Linked DNA regions of Homo sapiens. The protein of the gene in region 7 interacts with the protein of the main gene of each other region in a pairwise test. Each region holds a gene or a part of one and is shown on either strand. Other genes may lie near its edges.

Evidence for each region.
Region 1: the proteins of POM121 (region 7) and TEX11 interact in binary tests that used the Homo sapiens proteins (3 or more experiments, as listed by UniProt).
Region 2: the proteins of POM121 (region 7) and MORN5 interact in binary tests that used the Homo sapiens proteins (3 or more experiments, as listed by UniProt).
Region 3: the proteins of POM121 (region 7) and KPNA6 interact in binary tests that used the Homo sapiens proteins (3 or more experiments, as listed by UniProt).
Region 4: the proteins of POM121 (region 7) and ZMYND12 interact in binary tests that used the Homo sapiens proteins (3 or more experiments, as listed by UniProt).
Region 5: the proteins of POM121 (region 7) and FXR2 interact in binary tests that used the Homo sapiens proteins (3 or more experiments, as listed by UniProt).
Region 6: the proteins of POM121 (region 7) and AP2B1 interact in binary tests that used the Homo sapiens proteins (3 or more experiments, as listed by UniProt).

Annotation. Positions count from the first base shown.
Region 1 is NC_000023.11:70,608,212-70,611,711, reverse strand, and holds part of TEX11 (testis-expressed protein 11), read left to right. Parts: intron 1-1,168; coding exon 1,169-1,209; intron 1,210-2,534; coding exon 2,535-2,621; intron 2,622-3,500. UniProt on the Homo sapiens protein: Regulator of crossing-over during meiosis. Involved in initiation and/or maintenance of chromosome synapsis and formation of crossovers.
Region 2 is NC_000009.12:122,169,908-122,173,407, forward strand, and holds part of MORN5 (MORN repeat-containing protein 5), read left to right. Parts: intron 1-3,500.
Region 3 is NC_000001.11:32,114,556-32,118,055, forward strand, and holds part of KPNA6 (importin subunit alpha-7), read left to right. Parts: intron 1-3,500. UniProt on the Homo sapiens protein: Functions in nuclear protein import as an adapter protein for nuclear receptor KPNB1. Binds specifically and directly to substrates containing either a simple or bipartite NLS motif.
Region 4 is NC_000001.11:42,435,523-42,439,022, forward strand, and holds part of ZMYND12 (zinc finger MYND domain-containing protein 12), read right to left. Parts: intron 1,022-3,500; coding exon 899-1,021; intron 1-898. UniProt on the Homo sapiens protein: Required for sperm flagellum function and male fertility.
Region 5 is NC_000017.11:7,594,398-7,597,897, reverse strand, and holds part of FXR2 (RNA-binding protein FXR2), read left to right. Parts: intron 1-1,903; coding exon 1,904-2,074; intron 2,075-3,140; coding exon 3,141-3,219; intron 3,220-3,500. UniProt on the Homo sapiens protein: mRNA-binding protein that acts as a regulator of mRNAs translation and/or stability, and which is required for adult hippocampal neurogenesis. Specifically binds to AU-rich elements (AREs) in the 3'-UTR of target mRNAs.
Region 6 is NC_000017.11:35,593,822-35,597,321, forward strand, and holds part of AP2B1 (AP-2 complex subunit beta), read left to right. Parts: intron 1-186; 5' UTR 187-209; coding exon 210-246; intron 247-2,711; exon of another isoform or gene 2,712-3,309; intron 3,310-3,500. UniProt on the Homo sapiens protein: Component of the adaptor protein complex 2 (AP-2). Adaptor protein complexes function in protein transport via transport vesicles in different membrane traffic pathways.
Region 7 is NC_000007.14:72,945,447-72,948,799, reverse strand, and holds the end of POM121 (nuclear envelope pore membrane protein POM 121), read right to left. Parts: intron 3,215-3,353; coding exon 3,092-3,214; intron 2,664-3,091; coding exon 2,566-2,663; 3' UTR 501-2,565; downstream 1-500. UniProt on the Homo sapiens protein: Essential component of the nuclear pore complex (NPC). The repeat-containing domain may be involved in anchoring components of the pore complex to the pore membrane. When overexpressed in cells induces the formation of cytoplasmic annulate lamellae (AL).

The DNA.
Region 1 (3,500 bases), on a different chromosome or scaffold from region 7:
TTCTCCGAGATCAGTTAGGCTCTGATATACCCCAGAAGGTCAGGCTGTGGTTAAGCAGTTTCTCTTGAGGGCAAGACTTGTTAAGAACAGGGTGCTCTGGCATGTTTTAAAGTGTTTTGTTTCCTCTGCCCCCTGCAAGATGCATAAAGAGATTTTGCTCCAATATTCACTGAGTAGCTAACCAAGCTCCTGGAGGCAAAACTCACAAAACTGTGGAGGCCTCCTTATGACTGGGTCCTCCTGAGTCTTTTAATTCAGACTTGTCCACACTGAGCCTCCAGTGGTTTGTCAGTTACGCTTCAGGTTTTCCTACTCCAGCATTGGTTCCCATGGTAGTTTCCACTTTTGAATCTCTGCTCTAGTAAGCTATGACTCCCTATCTTCGCCCTTCTCTCCAATTTTTGTGGCAGTGGTTTTCCCTTTTTCCTCTCGTCTCTTATAGGTCCAAGAAGAGTTACTAATTTTTCAGTGTGTTCAGCGTTTTACTTGTTAGGAGAAACTGGCAACTTCCAAGCTCCTTACATGCATAACTAGAAACCGGAAGTTCTCTTTTAAATTTTATATGCTTAAAGAAGCTTGACAGAGGGGTCAGGAAACCTGGGTCTACTCTTTTCTTCATCTGTAAAATGATGTGTCTGTACAAGATAAGTTATTTTTTAAGCTGCATTCCTTAGAACCGTGGAAATTTTGTGGCACTGCATCAGGGACTTCCAGGAAGGTGAAACTCCAAGCCTCCACCCACTCCTCGTTCAACCACAGCAGCTCAACTTTTATCTTTTATCTTTTCTTGTATATTAGACTTTTATACAACTTTATTTGAAATAAGGGTTCTAGTTCCCCCCTTCAAAAAAGCTTATAAATCACAGAGATCACCAGCTGCTCTCAAGTGTTATGACCCTACAATATAAAACCTTGTCATTGAAATCCTTTGCTGAGAGTTTATGAAGAAGTAGAAGAGAGAAAAAATATGAGGGCACTGGGAATGAGTAACTGTATCCTACAGTGGGGAAGAAGATTGTTGAAATGGTAGATTGGAGTCCTGAGCAAAAAACTTCACAATTTTGCATTTTCTTAGTTCAATTCTCAGGCACAAATAGTGTCCCTTTTTAGTTATGTTTTATAGTAAAGATTTGGAGCAGTTGGAAAATATCCTTTTCTTTATTTTTAGGAAGAAAGAAATGGATCGACTTTTGACTTGCCTGAATAGAGGTAAATATCTCCCTGGTTATATTCAGTCCTTCATCTTGCCTCTATTCTCTGTTGAATTCTCCAAGTACACTAAGCACAGCAACTTTAACCTTATGTTTGAGTTAAGCTTCATGCTCCTTATTAATCTTTGCCACAGGAATCTATTTTGGTTTCTTCATTCACAAGCAGAGAAAAGTGTGTCATCATTAGCATTCATCTCCAAATGTGATTTCAGTTCTGTTTTAATTCCTATTTGTTTTAAGGACATTTCCTTCCCTCCCTCCCTCCCGTCCCTCCCTCCCTCCCTCCCTCTCTTCCTTCCTTCCTTCCTTCTTTCTCTCCTTCCCCCTTCCCTCCCTCCTTTCCTTTCCTTCTCTCCCTTCCTCCCTTCTCTCCCTCCCTGTCCCTCTACCTTTCTTTTCTAGTAGCCACTTGATCCTAACCTAAGAATTGAACAGGTGAAAAAAGATCAAGACAAATAAAAATACTCTGAACCCTGCTGTTTTTTTCATACCCTCTGAATCAAATTCAGGTTGCATATTCTCTTATTTTGAAGCTGTCCACCCAAGTCTGTGCCATCTCCCTTATCTACTAATAATTTTTCCCTGTCCACTTTATTCAAGCTAATCTCCTAGTTGTATCACATTTTTTTTCTAACTACATGCTTTTTTACATGGCATCCCTTTTAACAGATCTCCCATTTTTACTGTCCATGTACCTCTTTCCTTATGTCCAAAACACACCAAAAAGTTCATATCTTAGAAATTCTATCCTGCTCAGTGCAGTAGTTCAATTTTATACCTCAAATACCTGTCAGCAGGGTGTTAAACATAGCAAAGTGGTTTAGAAACCAGACCACTTCTTTTCAAAAGAGAAAAACTTTGCTGGTTGGCATTCTTATTTCTCAGAAAGAGAATGCCTTCTGATAGTGATAGCACATTCTGGTTCTGTCCTGAGCTTGCTGGCTCAGTAAATATTATGCCAGCATATTGATACCCTTCTAATTTTCAATCTCCAGTTCAGTCTTTTAAACGATTGTTTCTATTTTTTATTTCCTCACATGTAAATCATATCTTTCTACCTCAGGTGGTGAATGATTGCACTAATTAAAATTATAAATCTCTCCAAAGACATGTTTGTTCCCCAGAGTTTGAGTTAACAACTTCTTGGAACTTGGTAATGCTTTCTGTCATTTTAATTACTTTTGGTATGCACCCCTACACACATACACAAAAAAGAACTTTCTAAATTCAAACTCCTGTGAGACTGTTCTTAAAGCAGGATTAAACAATTTTGCTAGAGTATAAAATAAGACCATCAGTATCAAATTTTCCTGTTTGATGCAGCCTTTGTGAAACTTTCTCAGCCTTTTGGTGAAGAAGCCTTAAGTTTGGAGTCAAGAGCTAATGAAGCTCAGTGGTTTCGAAAAACAGGTAAGAGGAAATTCTGTGGCTCTGGGAAACATTGTGGGGTGGTGGAATTAGACAGATGTGATTTCAAATTCTGGATCTTTCATTTGTAGCTGTGGGTACAGAGATAACTTGCTTAATCTGTTTTATTACTTATAAAATGGAAATAGTTATATATACTTCATGCAGTTATTAAGGGTTTTAAATGAAACAGCATATATACTTTTTTCATAGTAGATACTCAATGGACATTAGTTGTGTCCCTTTTCTATAGAAATGGGTCTAAGATGAAACTAATGAACTGTAACTACAGGTCCTCAAGGTTGTGCTCCTAAACTTGGTTTAGAATACTTAATTTTTTTTTTTTTTTTTTTGAGATGGAGTCTCGCTCTGTCGCCCAGGCTGGAGTGCAGTGGCTTGATCTCAGCTCACTGCCAGCTCCGCCTCCCGGGTTCACACCATTCTCCTGCCTCAGCCTCCCTAGTAGCTGGGACTACAGGCACCCGCCACCACGCCCGGCTAATTTTTTGTATTTTTAGTAGAGATGGGGTTTCACCGTGTTAGCCAGGATGGTCTCGATCTCCTGACCTCGTGATCCACCTGCCTCGGCCTCCCAAAGTGCTAGGATTACAGGCGTAAGCCACCGTGCCTGGCCTAGAATACTTAATTTATTTCTGAGTGTGATTGACCAAAAATGAACTATATACAACAATATGGATGAATCTCACAAACATAATGTTGAGCAAAAGAAGCTAGATATTGAAGAATACATATTGTGTTGTTCATTTTATTTATAATTTTTTAAATGGGCAAAACTAATATATGGTGTTATAAGTCAGGATAATGGTTACCCTGGAAAAGGAGTTGGACTTGAAAGTTGTAGGAGCTTCAGGGTTTCTGGTA
Region 2 (3,500 bases), on a different chromosome or scaffold from region 7:
CAGGAAGGCCAGTCCTCATATCTCAGCTCCACTGTGCTAGCCAGAGGACCATGGGCAAGGGACTTTACCCACTGCGCCTCAGTTTCTCCCCTTCAAAATGGAGTCAATCAGCTGGGCGTGGTGACTATGCCTGTAATCCCAGCACTTTGGGAGGCCAAGGCGGGTGGATCACTTGAGGTCAGGACTTCCAGACCATCCTGGCCAACATGGTGAAACCCCGTCTCTTCTAAAAATACAAAAATTAGCCGGGTGTGGTGGCATGCCTGTAATCCCAGCTACTCAGGAGGCTGAGGCATGAGAATCGTTTGAACTCAGGAGGTGGAGTTTGCAGTGAGCTGACATCACACCACTGCACTCCAGCCTGGGCGACAGAGCGACACTCTGGTCTCAGAAAAAAAAAAAAAAAAATCAAAATGGGGTCAATAGCATCATCTACCTCCCAAGATTGTTGTAAATAAGATAATTCATGTCAGGTGTTTAGAACAGTGCCTTGAATGCATGTGGGTGCACGGTACATGTCAGCTGTTCTTATTCGTGGTACCTACTATAACACTAAAATTATGTAAATATTTTAAAAAGAAAGAGTTAAGGACGAAAGCAGTACTGACAGAGCATGTGCTTTGTGTATCAGGTGCTGGGGGAGGCTCTCTGTAATCCCTGTCTCCCTAATGTCCAGATGACCCTGCCCAGTCAGCCTTCCTAGTCCCATGTCACTCCAGGTTGAGGCTGTGGAGTTCAGACATGGTTCCCTGTGGCAGAGCTCACACTGGTAGCCCAGTCTTCCTCTCTGAGGTCCTCTTTATCATGCTACCTCCCTGCAAAAACCGTGTCTCATCATGGAGGGCTACATTTGGACTATAAGTCTGGATTCAGAGAGTGGCACCTTAAAATTTTGAGACGTGTTCCAGGTCAGGTGAGCCTCAAGACGAGGGGAGGAGAGGGATAGTATTAGGAGAAATACCTAATGTAGATGACAGGTTGATGGGTGCAGCAAACCACCATGGCACGTGTATACCTATGTAACAAACCTGCACATTCTGCACATGTACCCCAGAACTTAAAGTATAATAAAAAATAAATAAGTAATAAAAAAATAAAAAAAGAAAAGTGTAGTTTTTGGCACAGCAGAGATAATATATCCAAAATGACAGATGGGGAAACAACTCTGTATACTATAAAAACAATCCCAACTTAGCTTATGAGAGACCATGAGCTGTGGTTGACAGAGCATAGAGCCAGAAATTGTGGGTTTGAGTCCTAGCATTCTCTCTCTATAGCAGGATGAGCCTGCACAAGTCAACCTCCGTCAGGGCAGAAGCCTCCAGGAAGCACTCAGGCACTGGAGTCAGGCAGACCTGAGCTCAAACCCCCATCTCCTTCCCTTCCCAGCTTCATGACCTTGGGTCAGTTAGTTGACCGGGTGAGCCGCCTTCTCTCCCTTTGCCCTCCTGACACTTACTCTGCTATTTTCCTCCTATCCCCAGGCTTCTTTGCCACTGCCTCCTCAACATCCCCCCACCCCCAGTTATTCACGTTGAGGTTCCCGGGGCTCTCTGGCTTAGGCATTTTCTGTTTTCATTCTATATGCTCTTCCTGAACAAGTTGATACACTTCTAAGCCTTCAACTACCATCAGCTTCTAAATTGAAATCAGAATCCCTGAGCCTAAGATCCCTGCATCAAGCTTCCCTGACACCTGTATTGGTCGTTCTCAACTTGTTTGCACTGAATTCATTGTCACCCCCACCGTGATGGCTGCCTCACTGAATGTCATGCCCATCCACCTAGGTAAGCCTAATCCTCCCTTCCCCTGCCCCCTAAGTGCAATGGTCCTATGGATTTTACCTCTGAAATATAGACTTTATTTGTTTATTCAACAAATATTTATTGAGCACTTCCATGTGCCAGGCAGCATTCTCTTCATACTCTTTGCCACTGCCCTGTTCCAGCCCTCCATCATCTTTCCCCTTGATGACCTGACTCCGGAGATCCCCACTTGGCGCCCTTGAGGTCATTCTCCATTCTGCAGTCACTTCCATCTTTTTTTTTTTTTTTTTTTTTTTTTTGAGACAGAGTCTTGCTCTGTTGCCCAGGCTGGAGTGCAGTGGTATGATCATAGCTCACTGTAACTTTGAACTCCTGGGCTCAAGCGATCCTCCTGCCAAGTGATCTGGCCTCCTAAGTAGCTGGAACTACAGGAATGCGCCACCACTCCTGGTTAATTTTTTTTTTTTTTTTAAGTTTCTTGTAGAGATGGGTGTTGCCATGTTGCCCAGGCTCATCTAGAACTCCTGGCCTCAAGCAACCTTCCCTCCTTAACTTGGGATTACAGGCGTGAGCCACCATGCCCGGCCGCTTACATCTTTTAAAGTGTGAATCTGATTGCCTCCCTCCCGCCCCGCCCCTTGAGTGCTCCCTATACCCTCAAGATAAGGTTTCAAATTCTCAGAAACAGTGACATTCTCTGGCTCCTGCTCATGTCCCAGCCTCATCCTAGGCTACCCACCCTTCTCGGTTTTTCTCTCTCCCCTCTTGCGATACTTGCTTTCTTTCTGTTTCTCAAAGAGACCACACTTTTTCCTGCCATTCTCTCTGCCTGGAATACTTTAACCCTCTTACTTCACCCAAATAACTCCTTCCCGTACTTCAGTTCTCAGCTCAACGTCCTGAAGCTGGGAGCCCCTTCCCTGAATTCCCACACTAGGTAAGGTCTCCCTGTGGCATATCACAGCAGCCATGACCTCCTCCCAGGGCTTGGATCGTGAGTGTTCAGCTCGTCTTCCCAAGCTGTGAGCAACATGAGGGCAGGGCCCTAGCACATTGTCTGGCATACAGTGGGTACTCGTTAAAGAGTTATTGTCAAACAGGGATAATGATACTGACATCACAGTGCAGGGTGAAGTATGTGCTTAGGGGAGTTAAGGCAATGACATTAAGAAATATTTCCTAAGCTCCTACTGTATGTCAGACGCTGGCTGGACCCAGGGAGACCAGAGTTAAGAGGACATCATCTCTCCCTTCAAAGAGCTGCCAGTCTAGCTGCAGCTTGAGAACCTTGCAAATCACTCCTCCCGAATTAGTTATGATGGGAGGCCTGGACTTTGCCATGGGCTCTTCACCCCAATTAAGGCTGTAGGCAAAAAGCCCTCAGCCTTAAGCCTTAGCTCTCACACAATGGCTGGTTATGCTAAAGCTAAGCCTCTGCCAGTCTCGTGGTGGCATTTCCCGAACCTGCCTGGCTCTCCCCGAACATGCCTGGCTCTCCCCTACTTCTCCTGTGACCCTCAGAAGAGCAGCTTGATTCTAAGTAGCTACTTCCTTCCCTTGTCACTCCACACTTTGCCTCTTGGGGCTGGCATTGTTAGGGCAACTCGCCCTGCCTGCAAGGCAGGGTGAGGGTTAAAAGTGCCCCGCGACCTCTTCGAGCATCTGTGAGATGGGCATTGGCATGAGGCTTTGGTGAGAGAATGGCTGTAAAGTGCTTGACATGGAGTAAGTGCT
Region 3 (3,500 bases), on a different chromosome or scaffold from region 7:
ACGTTTTAAGCTTCTGAGATTTTCAGAATAGTAATTGAGCATTGACTTCAACTTAAAGGCCCCAGCTGCATTAGCCCATAACAAGAGAGTCAGCCTGTCATTTGAAGCTTTGAAGCCAGGCATTGACTTCTCTCTAGCTATGAAAGTCCTAGATGACATCTTCCTCCAATGGAAAGCTGTTTCTTCTACATTGAAAATCTGTTGGCTAGTGTAGCCACTTTCATTAATGATCTTAGCTTGATCTTCTGGATAACTTGCTGTAGCTTCTGCATCAGCACATGCTGCTTCACCTTGCACTTTTTTGAGACAGTGTCTCACTCTGTCACCCAGACTGGAGTGCAGTGGCACGATCTCGCCTCACTGCAGCCTCTGTCTCCCGGGTTCAAGTAATTATGGTGCCTCAGTCTCCTAAGTAGCTGGGATTATAGGTGTGTGCCACCACGCCCAGAACATTTATGTATTTTTATAGAGACAGTGTTTCGCCGTGTTGGCCAGGCTGGTCTCGAACTCCTGACCTCAAGTGATCCGCCCACCTCAGCCTCCCAAAGTGCTGGGATTATAGGCATGAGCCACCACACCCGGCTTCACTTTTTTTTTTGAGACGGAGTTTCTCTCTGTTGCCCAGGCTGGAATGCAGTGGCGCGACCTCAGCTCACTACAAGCTCGGCCTCCCGGGTTCACGCCATTCTCCTGCCTCAGCCTCCCGAGTAGCTGGGACCACAGGCGCCCGCTACCACGCCCGGCTAATTTTTTTTTGTATTTTTAGTAGAGATGGGATTTCACCATGTTAGCCAGGATGGTCTCGATCTCCTGACCTCGTGATCCGCCCATCTCAACCTTCCAAAGTGCTGGGATTACAAGGCGTGAGCCACTGTGCCCAACTTTTTTTTTTAAGATAGGGTTTTTGTCTGTCACCCAGGCTGGGGTGCAGTGGCAAGATAGCACACTGCAACCTCTAATTCCTGGGCTCAAGGGATCCCCCCACGTCAGCCTTCTAAGTAGCTGGGGACTACAGGTGTGTGCCACCACACTCAGCCAATTTTAAATTTTTGTGAGACAGTGTGTCACCATGTTGCCCAGGCTGGTCTTCAAGTCCTGTCCTCAAGTGATCCTTATTCCTCAGCCTCCAAAGCCACTGGGATTACAAGCATGAGTCACTGAGTTTGGCCTCCACATTGATGGCTTCTTTCCTTAAACCCTTTCTTTTTGAGACGGAGTCTCACTGTCGCCCAGGCTGGAGTGCAGTGCCATGATCTCAGCTCACTGCAACCTCTTCCTCCCAGATTCAAGCGATTCTCCTGCCTCAGCCTCCCAGGTAGCCAGGATAACAGGTGCCCGCCACCACATCTGGCTAATTTTTGTATTTTTAGTAGAGATGGGGTTTCACCATGTTGGCCAAGTTGGTCTCGAACTCCTGACCTCAGGTGATCCACCTGCCTCAGCCTCCCAAAGTCTTGGGATTACAGGCATAAGCCACTGCGCTCGGCTCCTTAAACCTTATGAACCAGTCTCGTTAGAGCCTGGCTCTGGATTAGGCTTTGGTTTAAGGCAGTATTGTGGCTGATTTGATCTTCTGTCAAAACCACTAAAAGTTTATCCATATTGGCAATAAGGCTGTTTTTTCTTTTCTTTTCTTTTTTTTTTTTTTGAGACAGAGGCTGGAGTGCAGTGGCCCTATCTTGGCTCACTGCAAGCTCCGCCTCCCGGGTTCATGCCATTCTCCTGCCTCAGCCTCCTGAGTAGCGCCCGGCCGGTTGTTTTTTTTAAACATTTGTGTGTTCACTGGACTAGTACTTTTCATTTCCTTCAAGATCTTTTCCTGGCCAGGTGCAGTGGCTCATGCCTGTAATCCTAGCACTTTGGGAGGCCCAGGCAGGCGGATCACCTGAGGTCAGGAGTTCAAGATCAGCCTGACTAACATGGAGAAACCCTGTCTCTACTAAAAATACAAAATTAGCCGGGTGTGGTGGCACATGCCTGCAATTCTAGCTATTTGGGAGGCTGAGGCAGAAGAATCGCTTGAACCCAGGAGGTGGAGGTTTCGGTGAGCTGAGATCGCACCATTACACTCCAGACTTGGAAACTCCTTCACAACAAAAAAAAAGAACTTTTCCTTTGCATTCACAGCTTTGCTAACTGGCGCAAGAGGCTTAGCTTTCACCATATCTTGGCTTTTTGACATGCCTTCCTCACTAAGCTTAATCATTTCTAGCTTTTGACTTAATGTGGAGACATGCAACTGCCCCTTTCACTTGAACAAATAGAGGCCATTGTAGGGTTATTAATTAGCCTCATTTCAATATTGTTGTATCTCAGGGAATAGGGTGGGAGAGAGACTGTGGAATGGCTTGTTGGTGGAGCAGTCAGATCATACACAGTATTTATCAGTTAAGTTCTCCATCTTATATGACCATGGCTCATGGCACCCCAAAACAGTTGCAATACTAGCATCAAATATCACTGATCACAGATCACCATAACAGATAAAACAAAAAACAAAAGTTTGAAATATTACGAGAATTACCAAAATGTGGCACAAAGTGAACACATGCTGCTGGAAAAATGGCACCAGTAGACTTGCTTAACATAGGATTGCCACAAACCTTCAATTTGTTTTTTTTTGTTTTTTTTTTTTGAGACGGAGTTTCACTCTGTCACCCAGGCTGGAGTGCAGTGGCACGATCTTGGCTCACTGCAACCTCCACCCTCCGGGTTCAAATGATTCTCCTTCGTCAGCCTCCTGAGTAGCTGGGACTACAGGCGCCTGCCACCACGCCCGGCTAACTTTTTGTATTTTTAGTAGAGATGGGGTTTTACCATCTTGGCCAGGCTGGTCTTGAACTCCTGACCTTGTGATCCACCCGCCTCGGCCTCCCAAAGTGCTGGGATTACAGGCGTGAGCCACTGCGCCCGGCCCAATTTGTTTTTTTTTTTTTAAAAAAAACACACATTGGCTGGGTATGCTGGCTGACGCCTATAATCCCAGCACTTTGGGAGGCTAAGGCAGGTGAAACTCTTGAGCTCAGCAGTTTGAGACCAGCCTGGGCAACATAGTGAGACCCTGTCTCAAGACAAAAACAATAACAACAATAAAAAAACACACAGTATCGGTGAATCACAGTAAAATGAGATATGCCTGTACTTTATATATTCATTTAATTCTCAGATTCTCATGTTTTAGTTGAGAAAACCAAAGGATGGAGAGGTTTCAGTAACTTGGGCAAATTCATAGCTAATACATGGAAGAGACGCTTACTCAGTATGATTCTAATCAAAATATGGGCTGTTTGTACATAAGCATTCCTGAAGTAGCTAAAGCAATCTCTTCCCCACCCATCTTTTCCTATAGAAATCTCACCTGTTTTTCTTTTCTTTTTTTTAATTTGATATGGAGTTTCGCTCTTGTTGCCCAGGCTGGAGTGCAGTGGCACAATCTCCGCTCACCGCAACCTCTGCCTCCCAGTTCAAACTATTCTCCTGCCTCAGCCTCCTGAGTAACT
Region 4 (3,500 bases), on a different chromosome or scaffold from region 7:
GGGAACCCTAGGAGCCCAAACAGGCCTGGCCAAGGTAAGTGTGACAAGTGATGGGCTGAAAAGGGCCTGTGGCAGCTCATCTTGGGGTAGCCCTAGTGGGGTCTAATAACAGTGGTTATCTTTTGTATAGCACACACAACACGAAACCTTCACATCCTCACAACATCCTGATGTAATATTCTTATTATTCCCATTTTACATGTAAATAAACCGAGGCTCAGAGAAGATCACACACGACTTCTGGTAAGAGCTGTTAAGTGGCATAGCCAGAATTTAAACCCTGGTCTATCTGATTCTAAAGCTTTTAAACTACAGCAAAATGCCTCTTTCTCAGAAGCAGGTCTAAAACATGAATCAACAATCAGCAGAAAGCCTGTATTACACATTTATTACACAAATGATTGCCTGCTAAGTGAGGTGTTACTATATGGATACAGCTGACATTTTAATATATTGGAAACAGTTTAAAATATTTTACATGTAAATATGGAAATTTCTCATGTTCTTGGATCCCTTGACAGGATCTTGTAGCAACAGACTTCCCTTGGAAATCTCCTTCTCTATCGCACACTTCAATAAGCCCACATTAGCTTGCTGCTATGGGTATGACACAGCATACAACAGTCTATCTGAAGGGGTTTGGCTCTTACTGACCTGTCCTTCATTATTCGTTAATCACCCTACGGATGTTAAGGGTTAGTCTATTTTGGTAGTGGAGACACTGGAAGAAAGAAAATGGAGTATATCATGTATCAGGCTATATAGTCTTGGGCAAGCCACTTCATCTCTCTGTGCCTCTCTTTCTCATGAATGGTATGTTTTTCATGAATAGTCTAATACAAGTTGTAAGACACCAAGCCTAAGAGTGAAGGCTCAGCTCCCACATTCCCCAGCTCACCTTGGTGTACAATGTGTCTGCCAGGTCCAACTTTTTAAGGTCATAGAATATATTAGCCAGGTGGAAGTAGCCTCCTGAAGTCCTAATGTCCTCTGTTCCAAATGCACAACTGGCAAAATAAATCTATAGCAGAAGGAAGAAGGAGAGTGCTTGAGTTCCTTTTGCAAATCATATATCTGATAAAGGACTTGTATCTAGAATACATACAAAAAACTGTTACAACATTCCAATTTAAAAATGGGCAAAAGATCTGAATTGACATTTCTCCAAAAAGATATTCAGATGAATAATAAGCACATGTATAGATACTAACATAGTAATTAGGTAAATGCAAAACAAAGCTATAATGAAATATCACTGCATCTAGGATGGCTAGAATCAAATACAGAAAATAAAAAGTGTTGGGAAGGATATGGAGAAAATGAAACCCTCACACATTGCCAATGGGAATGTAAAAGGGTGCAGCCTCTGTGGAAACAGTTTGGTAGTTCCTTAAAAAGTTAAACATAGAGTTACTACATGACCCAGAAATTCCTCTTCTAAGTACCTACCCACAAAGACTTGTACGTAAATGTTTATATCAGCATTATTTAAAATACACAAAACATAGAAACAACCAAAATGTCCATCAACTGATAAATGGATAGACAAATTGTAGTATATCCAGGCAATGGAATGCTAATCAGCAATAAGAGGAATGAACTGTTGATACATGCAACAACATGGATGAATCTCAAAATAATCACCCTAGGTGAAAGAGGTCAGATGCAAAGGACCACACATGATGCTGTCTGTATGAACTGTCCTGAGAAGGCAAATTTGTAGAAACAGGAAGTGGTTGCTGGGGCTGGAACAGGAATGGGAAATGACTGCGCATGGATACAAGGGATCTCTTTGGGGTAATGGAAATGTTCTGAAACTTGATTGTGCTAATGGTTGCGCTACTCTGTAAATTTGCTAAAAATAATTTAATTGTACACGTAAAATGGGTGAATTTTATGGTATATATCAATAAAGCTCTGTGTGTGTGTGTGTGTGTGTGTGTGTGTGTGTGTGTGTTTAAAAAGCTAGGCTAAGGAATCTGAGCTTGTGCTAATTTTTTTTTTTTTTAAAGACAGAGTCTCCCTCTGTCGCCCAGGCTGGAGTGCAGTGGTGCGATCTTGGCTCACTGCAACCTCGCCTCCCGGGTTCAAGTGATTCTTTTGCCTCAGCCTTCCGAGCGGCTGGCATGACAGGCACACACCACCACACCTGGCTAATTTTCATATTTTTTTTTTTGGAGACTGAGTCTCACTCTGTCGCCCAGGCTGGAGTGCAGTGGCGCAATCCTGGCTCACTGCAACCTCTGCCTCCCAGGTTCAAGCAATTCTCCTGCCTCAGCCTCCCAAGTAGCTGGAATTACAGGCACATGCCACCACACCCAGCTAATTTTGTATATTTAGACGGGGTTTCACCATGTTAGTCAGGCTGATCTAGAACTCCTGACCTCTGGTGATCCGCCCATCTCGGCCTCCCAGAGTGCTGGGATTACAGGCGTGAGCCACTGCGCCCAGCTAATTTTTGTATTTTTCATAGAGACGGGGTTTCACCATATTGGTCAGGCTGGTCTCGAACTCCTGACCTCATGATCTGCCTGCCTCAGCCTCCCAAAGTGCTGGGATTACAGGCGTGAGCCACCACACCTGGCCTACTAATTCTTAACTGTGTGGCCCAGCTCAGGACAGAATGTGCCTCTGCTTAATTTGTTGGAGGATGTAGAGTATAGAGAGGAAACACAAAGAATTGTATTAGTCAGGAGCCCAGGTGGAACTAGATGGCACCCTCAATAAGATTGCCTGAAGATAGTTTAGTGGAATTATTACTTGACATGTAGAAGGGTTAAGAAACCAACAAGGGCTAGGGAAAAGCCCTACGAGTAAAACCAACAAAGCCTAGTGAAACACCAGGGACTACCAACAGCAAGAAACTATTACCATCCCTACACCTGAAACAGCAAGGGGAGGAAACAAGGTTACCAGGGCCCAGCAAGAGCTAGCACTATGGAAGAAGGCTGCCTGACAGGAGCTGTGGCCACAGAGGAACACTGTTCCTGACAGATCAGGGGTGGGGCAGAGAGGCAGCAGAGAGAATCAGTACCCCAGCCTTTTTCTCCTCCTACTCTCCACTCCCCTACTATGCCTTCCACTCTCCAAACCCAACCAAGGCCAGAGAGCAATGGAGTCCATAGAGGTTGTGTAGTCCATAGAGGTCAGGCTCCCAGGGCATAGAGTAGGGCAGAGAATGGATATGGGTTAGTGGAATTTAAAGAATAACCAGCGTAAAATTTAATTTACGGGCATTGTACAGGCGGGCAACCAGAGGAAGGGCTGCTTGGTGCAGAGGCCAGAAGAGAGGCTGAAGAGAGAACCAACCTGCATGGAGACTGCAGTCTGACTCTACGCTAACTCAGATTTCACGCCCAGGAACTCTTTTCTCTGGTAATATTTTCCAGTACTGAAATCCTAATAGAAACCCCTTAAATTTTGAAAGAACAATTCAGTTATCATCCTCAACATCCCATCTAACTTTGTACAGAGTTTTATCATCGATAAGTGCTTTCTTA
Region 5 (3,500 bases), on a different chromosome or scaffold from region 7:
TTTTGTGTGCTGATGAGTTGATTCATGGCTAGCCCCTCTAGGTGGCTTCATGATTAGAGGGTTGGAACTTTCAGCCTCACCCCCACCAACTTCCTGGGAGGGGAATGGGGCCAAAGGTTAAGGCAATCACTGAGGATCAGTGATTTAATCAGTCATGCCTAGTAGTGAAGCCTCTAAAAACCGGAAAGGGGCCGGGTGCAGCGGCTCACGCCTGCAATCCCAGCACTTTGGGAAGCCGAGGCAGGTGGATTGCCTGAGGTTAGGAGTTTGAGACCAGTCTGGCCAGCATGGTGAAACCCCTTCTCTACTAAAAATACAAAAAAAGGGAGGCAGAAGTTGCAGTGAGCAGAGATCATGCCACTGCACTCTAGCCTGGGTGACAGACCCCATCTCAAAAAAAAGAAAAAAAAAAAAGAAAACCCAGCTGTTCTGCAAGCTTATCTAGAAGACGCTTATAGGTCATTGTAGATCTCTTCCCCTCCCCTCCTAATGTAGTGATTTTGAACACTCAACTTAGTTTATTTTTCCAACTTTCTCTTCTTGCCTGGTATAAATCCTTGGTATAATTCAGTCCTATCCAACTTGGAAGTGGGAAGTAGTGTATTTCAATCTAGGAATGTCTCCTTTCAGGTATTGTTTCTATTTGGTGCTTACAACATGGGATTCACTCCTCTAAAACCTTTCCTGTCTTCCTGCCCCTGAACCCAGGGGTTCCTCTAAGGACTGATTGAGAAATGAAGTGAAAGCCTGGTGTTCTAGAGGCATGTTTTCTGTTTTTCTTAACCCCTCACTTTTTTTTGAGACAGAGTTTTGCTCTGTCACCAGGCTGGAGTGCAGTGGCATGACCTCGGCTCACTGTAACCTCCAACTCCCTGGTTCAAGCAATTCTCCTGCCTCAGCCTCCCAAGCAGCTGGGATTATAGGCACACCCCACCAAGGCCAGCTAATTTTTGTATTTTTAATAGAGATGGGGTTTCACTATGTTGGCAGGATGGTCTTGATCTCCTGACCTTGTGATCCACCTGCCTCAGCCTCCCACAGTGCTGGAATTACAGGCGTGAGCCACCGCGCACAGCCTACCCCTCACTTTTTACTTAAGTTGTTGAGTTTTATTTGGGGATGAGTTGATATTTGTTTGATTAAGGTAAGAGTTCCTTACACTTGCATGTACCTTGTGAGAAGTACTTTCACACCAGCCTTGTCTAATCCTCTTGCTAGTCTTGAGAATAAGATAAGTTGGATATAATCACTTAGCAGATGACACAAGAGGCAGAGTATGTTTTGTTTAAGATCACACAGATAGATACTCTTAGGGACAGATACTGTTAGGGCCAAATCCAGAACTTCGGTGTGTCCCAGTCCAAACTCTGCCCTCTTTACCTTTCCTCCCCCACAAACCACTGGTATTTGGAAGGAGTGGAATTAAAAGTTCCTGACCTTGGCCGGGCGTGGTGGCTTATGCCGGTAATCCCAGCACTTTGGGAGGCTGAGGCGGGCGGATCACCTGAGGTCAGGAGTTTGAGACCAGCCTGGCCAACATGGTGAAACCTTGTCTCTACTAAAAATACAGAAATTAGCCAGGCATGGTGGTGGACACCTGTAGTCGTAGCTACTCAGGAGGCCGAGGCATGAGAATCACTTGAAGTCGAGAGGCGGAGGTTGCAGTGAGCTGAGATCGCGCCACTGCACTCCAGCCTGGGCGACAGAGCGAGACGCCATCTCAAAGAAAAAACAAAAAGTTCCTGACCTTTCCACACAGGTCCTCGTGGTCCGCGGACTCCAGAGTGGTTCTAGCTTTCTATTAATATCACACAGTTTTCCTTATTTAAGTTATGCAAAGGGTCGTGTGCCTGGGACTGTGAGATTCTACCACCATGATTCCTACAGTGACTTTTCCTTTCAGACAAGCAAGCAGTTGGCAGCAGCCTTCCAAGAGGAGTTCACAGTGCGAGAGGACCTGATGGGACTGGCAATTGGGACTCACGGTGCCAACATCCAGCAGGCCCGAAAAGTACCTGGGGTGACCGCCATTGAGTTGGGTGAAGAGACCTGCACTTTCCGCATCTATGGGGAGGTCAGCAAAGGATGTCTTTCTTCTGGGTCTCTTAGGGGATAGAGGGAAGAGAGGCCGAAGTAGAAAATAAGCCTCAAACTGGGCACAGTGGCTCACACCTGTAATCCCAGCACCTTCGGAGGTCAAAGTGAGAGGATCACTTGAGCCTAGGAGTTTGAGACCAGCCTGTGCAACATAGTGAGACCCAATCTCTACAAAAATTTAAAAATTAGCTGGAAGTAGTGGTGCGTACCTGTAGTCGCAGGTACTTGGGAGGCTGAAATGGGAAGATAGAGGGGAGGATCACTTGAGCCTGGGAGTTGGAGAACAACCTGGACAACATAGAGAGACCCTGTCTTTACCCCCCAAAAAAACCAAAAACCAAAAAACGTTAACTGAGCGTGGTGGCATGCATCTGTGGCCCCAGCTACTTGGCTACTTGGGAGGCGGAGGCAGGAGGATCACTTGAGCCTGGAAAGTCAAGGCTGCAGTACACCATGATGGTGCCACTGAACCAACCTGGGCAACATAGTCAATAGAGTGAGACCAAAAAATCAAAAAAATAGACCAGATCTCTGTTGCCCAAGCTGGTTGTTAACTCCTAGCCTCAAGCAATCCTCCCTTCTTAGCCTCCGAAACTGTTGAGATTATGGGTGTGAGCCGCTGTGCCTGGCCAAGGTCCTCTGTTTTTTTTTTTAAGTTATTTATTTGTTTAATTTTTTTTTTTTATGAGATGGAGTCTAACTCACTCTGTTGCCCGGGCTAGAGTGCAGTGGCACAATCTCAGCTTATTGCAACCTCTGCCTCCTGGGTTCAAGAAATCTCCTGCCTCAGCCTCCGGAGTAGCTGGGATTAGAGACGTGAGCCACCAATTTTGTATTTTTAGTATTTTAGTATTTTTGTATTTTGATTTTTGTATTTTTAGTAGAGATGGCGTTTCACCATATTGCCCAGGCTAGTCTTGAACTCTTGAGCTCAATTTATCCACCTGCCTCCAGCCTCCCAAAGTGCTGGGATTACAGGCGTGAGCCACCACATCCAGCTGGTCTTCTGTTTTAGTAACAACTCCCTGCTGTTCTTCCTTTAGACTCCCGAGGCTTGCCGACAGGCCCGAAGCTACCTTGAGTTTTCTGAGGACTCAGTGCAAGTGCCCAGGAACCTGGTTGGTGAGTTGGTGGTGTGTATATACAGTTAGAGGTCAGAATCAAGATTCTCTACAGTGATTCTGAGCTTTTATCCAGGATTGGCACCTCCCTGTGGACTCCCAGTTTCACAAGGACAGAGAAACAGTCTGTAATGGGAGTGATAAAAATGAAAGAATAAATTTCTAGGGATTGTAACATTTTGTCCTGTAAAAACACATCAGAAACCTAGAAGCAGGAGAATGAAGTAAATGGAATCCATATAAAGAAAATGAGGCTGGAAGACGGTGTATCAGCTTTATTCT
Region 6 (3,500 bases), on a different chromosome or scaffold from region 7:
GCTTGAGGAGTTACATTCTTAGTTTTTCTTGAACCATCAACGGTGGTGATAAAGGAAGATGATACTCATTTTTAGAAATTCTTAAATATAAGTGTTCCTAAAATTAATTGGATGTTCTTAAAATTAATTGGATGCCTTGTTGGATATCTATAACCTGAATGAAGGAATTCTTTTCTCTTGCTATAGGTGCACATTAAAGATCCAAAGTCATGACTGACTCCAAGTATTTCACAACCAATAAAAAAGGTAAGTATGAGAATACAATCAAATCTTTTGAAATTTTCAAAAGTTGTAGTGTAAGATTGCCCCAGGCAGAATGCTGCTGACCTCTTCCTTCAGACATACATGTAGCTGACAATCTCACTGGACATCTACTACTTCTATAGATGAATGTATTCAAGCAAGTTATTAAAGAGTAGGTTTTAAAAGAGAGGGCTGTGATGCACATTATTATGACTTGAAGGTTCTGTTTAGTGAAAGAGACTCCTCTTTGCTGTTTGAGATGATCCATTGGAGATTGGTTAAGTGTGAGGAGGACAAAAGAAGCAGCATACTTTTTCCCTTTTATTAAATAATTTTTACTTGGAAATAAACATTTTATAACAAAGAATACAATTAAAGCAATACAGATATGTATGTAAAAGGTAAAAATGAAAGTTCTCCCTTCCTGTTCCTATTCCCAAGGGAACTTGGTGTATATCCTCAAGTCTTTTTCTCTGCATATGAGTGCATATATTAATACATATGATTTAAAATTTTTTTATCTTTAATGAAAAAGCAATCTTGCAAAACAATGAATAGAAATGAGTTATTTTCATATCCGTCCATATACATCTACCATGTTCTTCGTCTAGATGTATATTTAAAACGGAATCTCTAGAGCCATCTATGGTTTTTAGGTCATAGACGGAATTACTTGAGGGACTTTGCACTTATTACTCTCATCATCTTTGTTATCAGTAATATAATGCTTGTTTTTACCTATGAGTTTGGGTCTAGGAACAAAGGATTCTTCTGGGGAAAGTCCAACCCTTCATCTTTTGTAAAATTGTTCCTAAATAAAATAGATCATTTCTAGAAATGTGGAGGGTCTTCCCATCAAAGACAAACATTTTAGCCCATCTCAGCTTATTGTGCCTGTAGCTTAGCTTGCTTTATTTGTTGCTTAGGATCAGAATTCTGTGCTTTTGTGTTCAGGAGTCCTTACATTTACCAAAGTATTCCAGACATGGCGCCAACTACCATTCTTCTTTTTCTCTTGTTGCAGTGAGTTGCTTAATTATGTCAGTTTGTTGTCTGTAGCTTTCAGTCTTGGCAACACATCAGAATTGCTCAGCCAGGGAACTTTGAAATAATACTGATGCCTGGGTCTCAACCTCAGCCTGATTTCAGTTGTCCTGGATATGGTCTGGGTGTGAGGATTTTAAAGGTTCTCCAGGTGGCCAGGCATGGTGGCTTATGCCTGTAATCCCAGCACATTGGGAGGCTGAGACAGGAGGATTGTTTGAGTGCAGGAGTTTGAGACCAGCCTGGGCAACATGGTAAGACCCTATCTCTATGAAAAAAAATTTAAAAATTAGCCCTGTACGGTGGTGCACACCTGTAGTCCCAGCTATTTGGGAGGCTGAGGTGGGAGGATCACTTGAGTGCAGGAGGTTGAGGCTGCAGTGAGTCGTGATTGTGCCGCTGTACCCCAGCCTAGGCAACAGAGAGAGACCCTGTCTCAAAAGAAAAAAATTAAAAAGAAAGCTCCCCAGATTATTTTAATGTGCAGCCATGATTGAGAACTACTGCTAGCTGCTAACAGTGCTTGGTAGATTTGATTGGGGGGAGGAGGAGGGAGAAAATATAGGAATTTAATAAAGTTGTAGAATATATGACTTTGCCTCTTTTAGTACCCCTCTTTGGTCCTGCCCAACTTTTTCCTCCTTATTTTTATTACTTACACCTCACAAAAGCCATTAGCCACTTGTCATTCAGTCTCAGCTTTTTCTGATTTTCTTTTGGAAATATGTTTATTTCTTCTTCTGTTAGCATTTTGTGTGCTTTGACGAACAAAATGTCTATAATTATATAAAGGGATACAATTACAATTAAATAGTTATAATTTTAAAACTCTCCTAATTCTTCAAACCTACTCTTGAAAAGTGTCCTGGTGACCTTTTTTTAATTCAGGCATTTGTAAAAGTTTGAGACTGCAGATTGAATCACTGCTAATAAACATCATACTTAAAAAAAATTGATAGATTGTGTTCCCTGTACTTCCTGCAACACCCACCAGAACTGCCACTGAAACATATTCTTTAAATTTATGCTTTTGGAATTGGAATAATTTCTGTTACATCCTGCTTTGATTCTATAACACCTGCTGCTGTTCACAATTCAGACTTTCTGAAACCCCGCCGTTTGTCCTTCACTGTTCCCGGAAGTGAATGAGAGGAACTCTAAGAGCTGGATTTGGCAGGATGGGACATGGTGAAGAGTCCTATGAAGAATGACTCTTTAAAGGGCCCAGCTTTTCTTGCTATGCTACTTTTGTAGCTGTTGATTAAATAGAAATTTTGGAACAATTTTTTTGCCTTATTGGCCATGGATATTGAAACGAAAAAGTGCTCTACTTCTGTGTCTTACTAATTTCATCCTTTCCACATAATGGTTTCAGGCAAATCACGTAGTGTTTGTCCCCACTATTTCTTTCTTTTTTTTTTTTTTGGAGGAGGGGAGGTCAGGTTTTAATGTCCCAGTCCTCGGGCGCCGTCATCCCGCGCCTGCCAGGCCCGGCGGCCATGTCGCTCACTCGGGTGGCGGCCAGCCTGCCTCATCAGGGCCTTCCGCGGAGGCCGCCCCGTCGCCCTCGAGCACCAGCTTCACGTCCAGCTCCAGCTGCCCGGTGTAGAAGCCCACGGCGGCGCACACCCAGAGCGGGCTGGTGGCGAGTACAGCGCCCGCAGCTGCGCCCCCTAGCGTCAGCTGCATGGGCCCCCGCAGCGCTGCCAGGCCCCGCAGGCGCTGCCCCACACCGCACACAGGCCGCCCAGCAGGAAGAAGCCATATGCTGCTTCGTGATCCATGTCACTCTGCATGAAGGAGATAACCCCGATGCCCTATGCCAGGAGGCCATTGTGGAACCAGGAGAAGAAAGCTGTCTCGTGCGCCTTTCGGAGAGGAGCCTGGCGCCTGCACGGTCCAGCTCGGACACAGGTGGCGGCGAAGCCCCGTTGTGGGGGCCGTGGCCGGGGGCGAAGGACCCCTGGGCGCCCCCGCTCCGGGGCCACTGAGGCAGCAGTAGCGACCTCCGGAAGCGGAGACTGTCCCCACTGTTTCTATGCTGGTAAATGAGATCTGGTTGAAAGGAACGACAGGAACAGTCTTGAAGGTGGAGGAAAGTCTTTTGAGGCAGTATGGTAGATGAGCTGGAGGATGTAGATGGAAAGTTGAGATGGGAGTAGTCAACCTCTTTTTCATGGACTTAGTGTTTTTTTTCCGTTTCTTTTAAACAA
Region 7 (3,353 bases):
CGCCCTGCCTGCCCGGCCCCACCGAGGCCTGAGCACGTTCCCGGGTGCCGAGCACTGCCTCCGGGCTTCCCCCAAGACCACGCTTAGCGGTGGCTTCTTCGTTGCTGTAATTGAACGGGTCGAGATGCCGACGTGAGTGAGTGGGGGCATGCTTGGGAGGCGCAGGATGGTACTGGCACATCTAACATCTACATTTCTCTAGCTCAGCCTCACAGGCCAAAGCATCAGCACCAGAACGCACACCCAGCCCAGCCCCAAAGAGAAAGAAGAGAGCAAAAAGCTGCAGCCGGTGCTTGCACACCGCCTTGCACATAGCAGAGGCTCCGGGCTCACTCCTTCCTGGTGGGAAAGGAAGATGCCTGTCCTCTCCGTGGAAGACCCTGGGCCCTCACCGCAGGCAGCAGTTTGCGTTTTGAAAGGTTATTGGGTCCCTTCCTCGGGCTGTGTTCTTGCTGGTGAGCAAAAGTGTTGCCTGCAGAAATAAAATGCAGAACGTACTCTACGATAGATCACAGTTTTTTATTCTTAATGTCACAAGCAGGAGAAAAATCTCACATTCATACTAAAAATTCCAACTAGACTCAACAGGAATGAAGTCTCTATTTGTAATGGAAAGTCCCAGCCTCCCGCTGCCGTCCAGTGCGTGTACTGTACACATCCACACTCATTCTCACTCAGGGTTCCCGGACCGGCTGTCCTGCCTGCGGAACTGAGGTAAACTAGCTCAGGTACTGACACTAGGAGGGTCTACCTTACATAAGGTACAGGTAGAAGCTTGATTGCTAGGCCCAGGCCCACCCAGACCCTCCAATCCTAACAGGTATTTAGGCTTGAGGTTCACTCCCTCCTCAGCTGCACACGCAGCCAGGTATTAACGAGGATCAGAGCTGTTCTGAGGGGTGGGAAGGAGCAGCCCCGCCACCACTCACTCACCCTCAGTCACATCGGGGAGGGGGCACCAGTTACATTTACATCACATTATTTATAAAATAAGAATTACATTTCATATAACATGGCCAGAAGGAGCTCTAGTCCCCCAGGAAAGCTGCCGGGGACAGCATTTGAGCCTCTTCTTTGCACAGGCATAACTTAACTATACAGCTAATTCCTAGTTAATAGCATTTATACTTAACCACCTCAATGAACCAAGCTTGAAGGAATTTAAAAGGCAATTTAGCTTAAATACAAAAATAAATTTTTGTTAAAAAACGTTTAAATATTTTTTTCTTTTAATTTAGACACACGCATTCATACTTCTCCCAAAGAGGTTGGGCGTGGCAGCAAGGCGCTTGGGCCTGGGGTATGTGGTTTCAGAAGGACGGAAGGAAAGGATGGGCTGCAGAGGGCCCTGTTTGGGAAAAATAGGATTTTAAAAATATGGTTCATTAATTTAGGTTTTCTAACATCTACTTTGGGTGATGTAGCCTCCAGTGAGGTCAGTTAAGTGGGACAGAAACGGCAGAGGGAAGAGGTCTTTGCTTCCCCTGGGCCCATTCTCCCTGGCTGCCAGCCCTTGAAGTCAGAACACCATGGGAAAATTCAGGAGTCGGCACTTGTAGCCGTCAAGTGGTGCTACTTTCCACATTCAATTAGCGAGGCCCCAGAAAACTTGAAACAGGAAGTCCGGCACTACCAACATGCCGCCACTCATACAACTCAACTCTTCCTCCAAACTCGATTCAAAGAGCAATACACAGAGCATCAGACAAAGGAACACAGGACAAGGCTTGAAACATACAATCCTGGAGAGGCAGACGAGGGCCCAATGGGGCCAAAGGGTAGCTGGGCGAGGAGGCAGCTGAAGCAGCGGTGGGCATCCTGCCTGCTCCAAGAGCTTCTCCCTTCACCCCTGGCTCTGCCAGGCTAACAGTCTTGAGCCACCAAGCTCTGAGGGGCCAAACTGGCAGAGGGTTGGAGATGAAACATTGATTCAGGCTTGGCAGGAAGAAAACGGCAGGAGCAGCACCCACTGGGGTCTCCAAGGCAAAGCTAGATTCAAGGGCATTTAAAAACGAAGGAATCCTGCAAGGAACTGGTGAGGGACACAGCAGCAAGAAATGGGGAAACAGAGTCCCCAGAAGGGACCAGAGGAAGAGAACCACTTCTCACAGCTAAGCCAAGCAAGATAAAGCTTTACGGATAGCCCATTTCCCAAATCCCATCAGGTGCACACCACCGATCCAGGCGGGCTGGACCCTGCCCCCTCCAGCGACGACGGTCTCGGGGAAAGGTGGAAGGGGCGCCTGCCTAAGGGTGTGCTAAGCGGGAGTCAGGGCAGCGGACACTATGTACAGGTGTTTCCTTAGTTCTCCAGCCTCCCCAGTAGAACTGTTCAAGTAGAGGTCCCGGGCTTTGGCCCTCCGCATCCTGCTTCCCCTTCCCTGAGGCTTGTGCTTCCTCCAGAAGGGAAAGGGCCCCAGGGCTGCCACTGCCCCCTGGCGGCTGAAGCCAGAGATCCGGGGTAGGTTTGCTTTACGCAACTGGAAGGGTCCAAGGCTCTTCCTAGCAGGTGCCAAGGTCCAGATTTAGGGAAGGGGTGGGGGGAACAGGGACAGGGGACAAAGGCTACTTTTTGCGGGTGTGCTGCCTTCGGGCCTGCAGTCGCTGTCGAGCCCCTGGGGTCTTGGATCCCGCACCAATGGAAAATGAAAGGGCCGCCGATCCTGGAAAGATTCAACAAGACCTCATCAGGGCAGCTGCTACCTGAGACTCTGACTCTGGGTGCCCAAATCTCTGGAAGGCCAGGCCAGTAATAAAACACAGGGTGCCTCAATAGGGCTTTCCCCGCTGCATCAGAAACACTGTACGGGAGAAGCCTCCTGAAATGCAAACTCCCAGAGAGTCTCAGAGCGAGGCCCAAGAATCCATTTTTACCTGGCTTCCCATGGGAGGCAAACTTCCACCCCGGACAGCTCCTCTCTGATCTCTGCCATCCAACTCCCATCCCTGGGTTGTGCTGGACTCCTAACCCGAAATGTCTTTCCTGTGCTGAACCTGATCTTCACCGGGCCTCAGAGGACCAGGAACCTGCCACCCCGCCCAACCCCTCCTCAGACAGATGAGCAGGGCCACAGGGTGGCTTGCTGCTTACCGAAAGGTGCAACACCAACAAAGCCTTGGGCGGGTGCTGAGGATGCCCCAAAGGAGAGGCTGCTGCCTGATGTGCCCACTCCAGGCGCAGGGGTGTTCAGACCAAAGGTGGGGGTGGCGGTGCCTGGAATGAAGAGAACAGAGAGCTGGCCAGTGAGCAGAGGGCAGAGGCAAGCGAGGAGCCGGGCAGGAGCCTGTGCTCCGCAGGGCACTTCCCACGGGACCCTCAGCCCCACTTCTGCTTCTGGGGCACTCCTCCATCA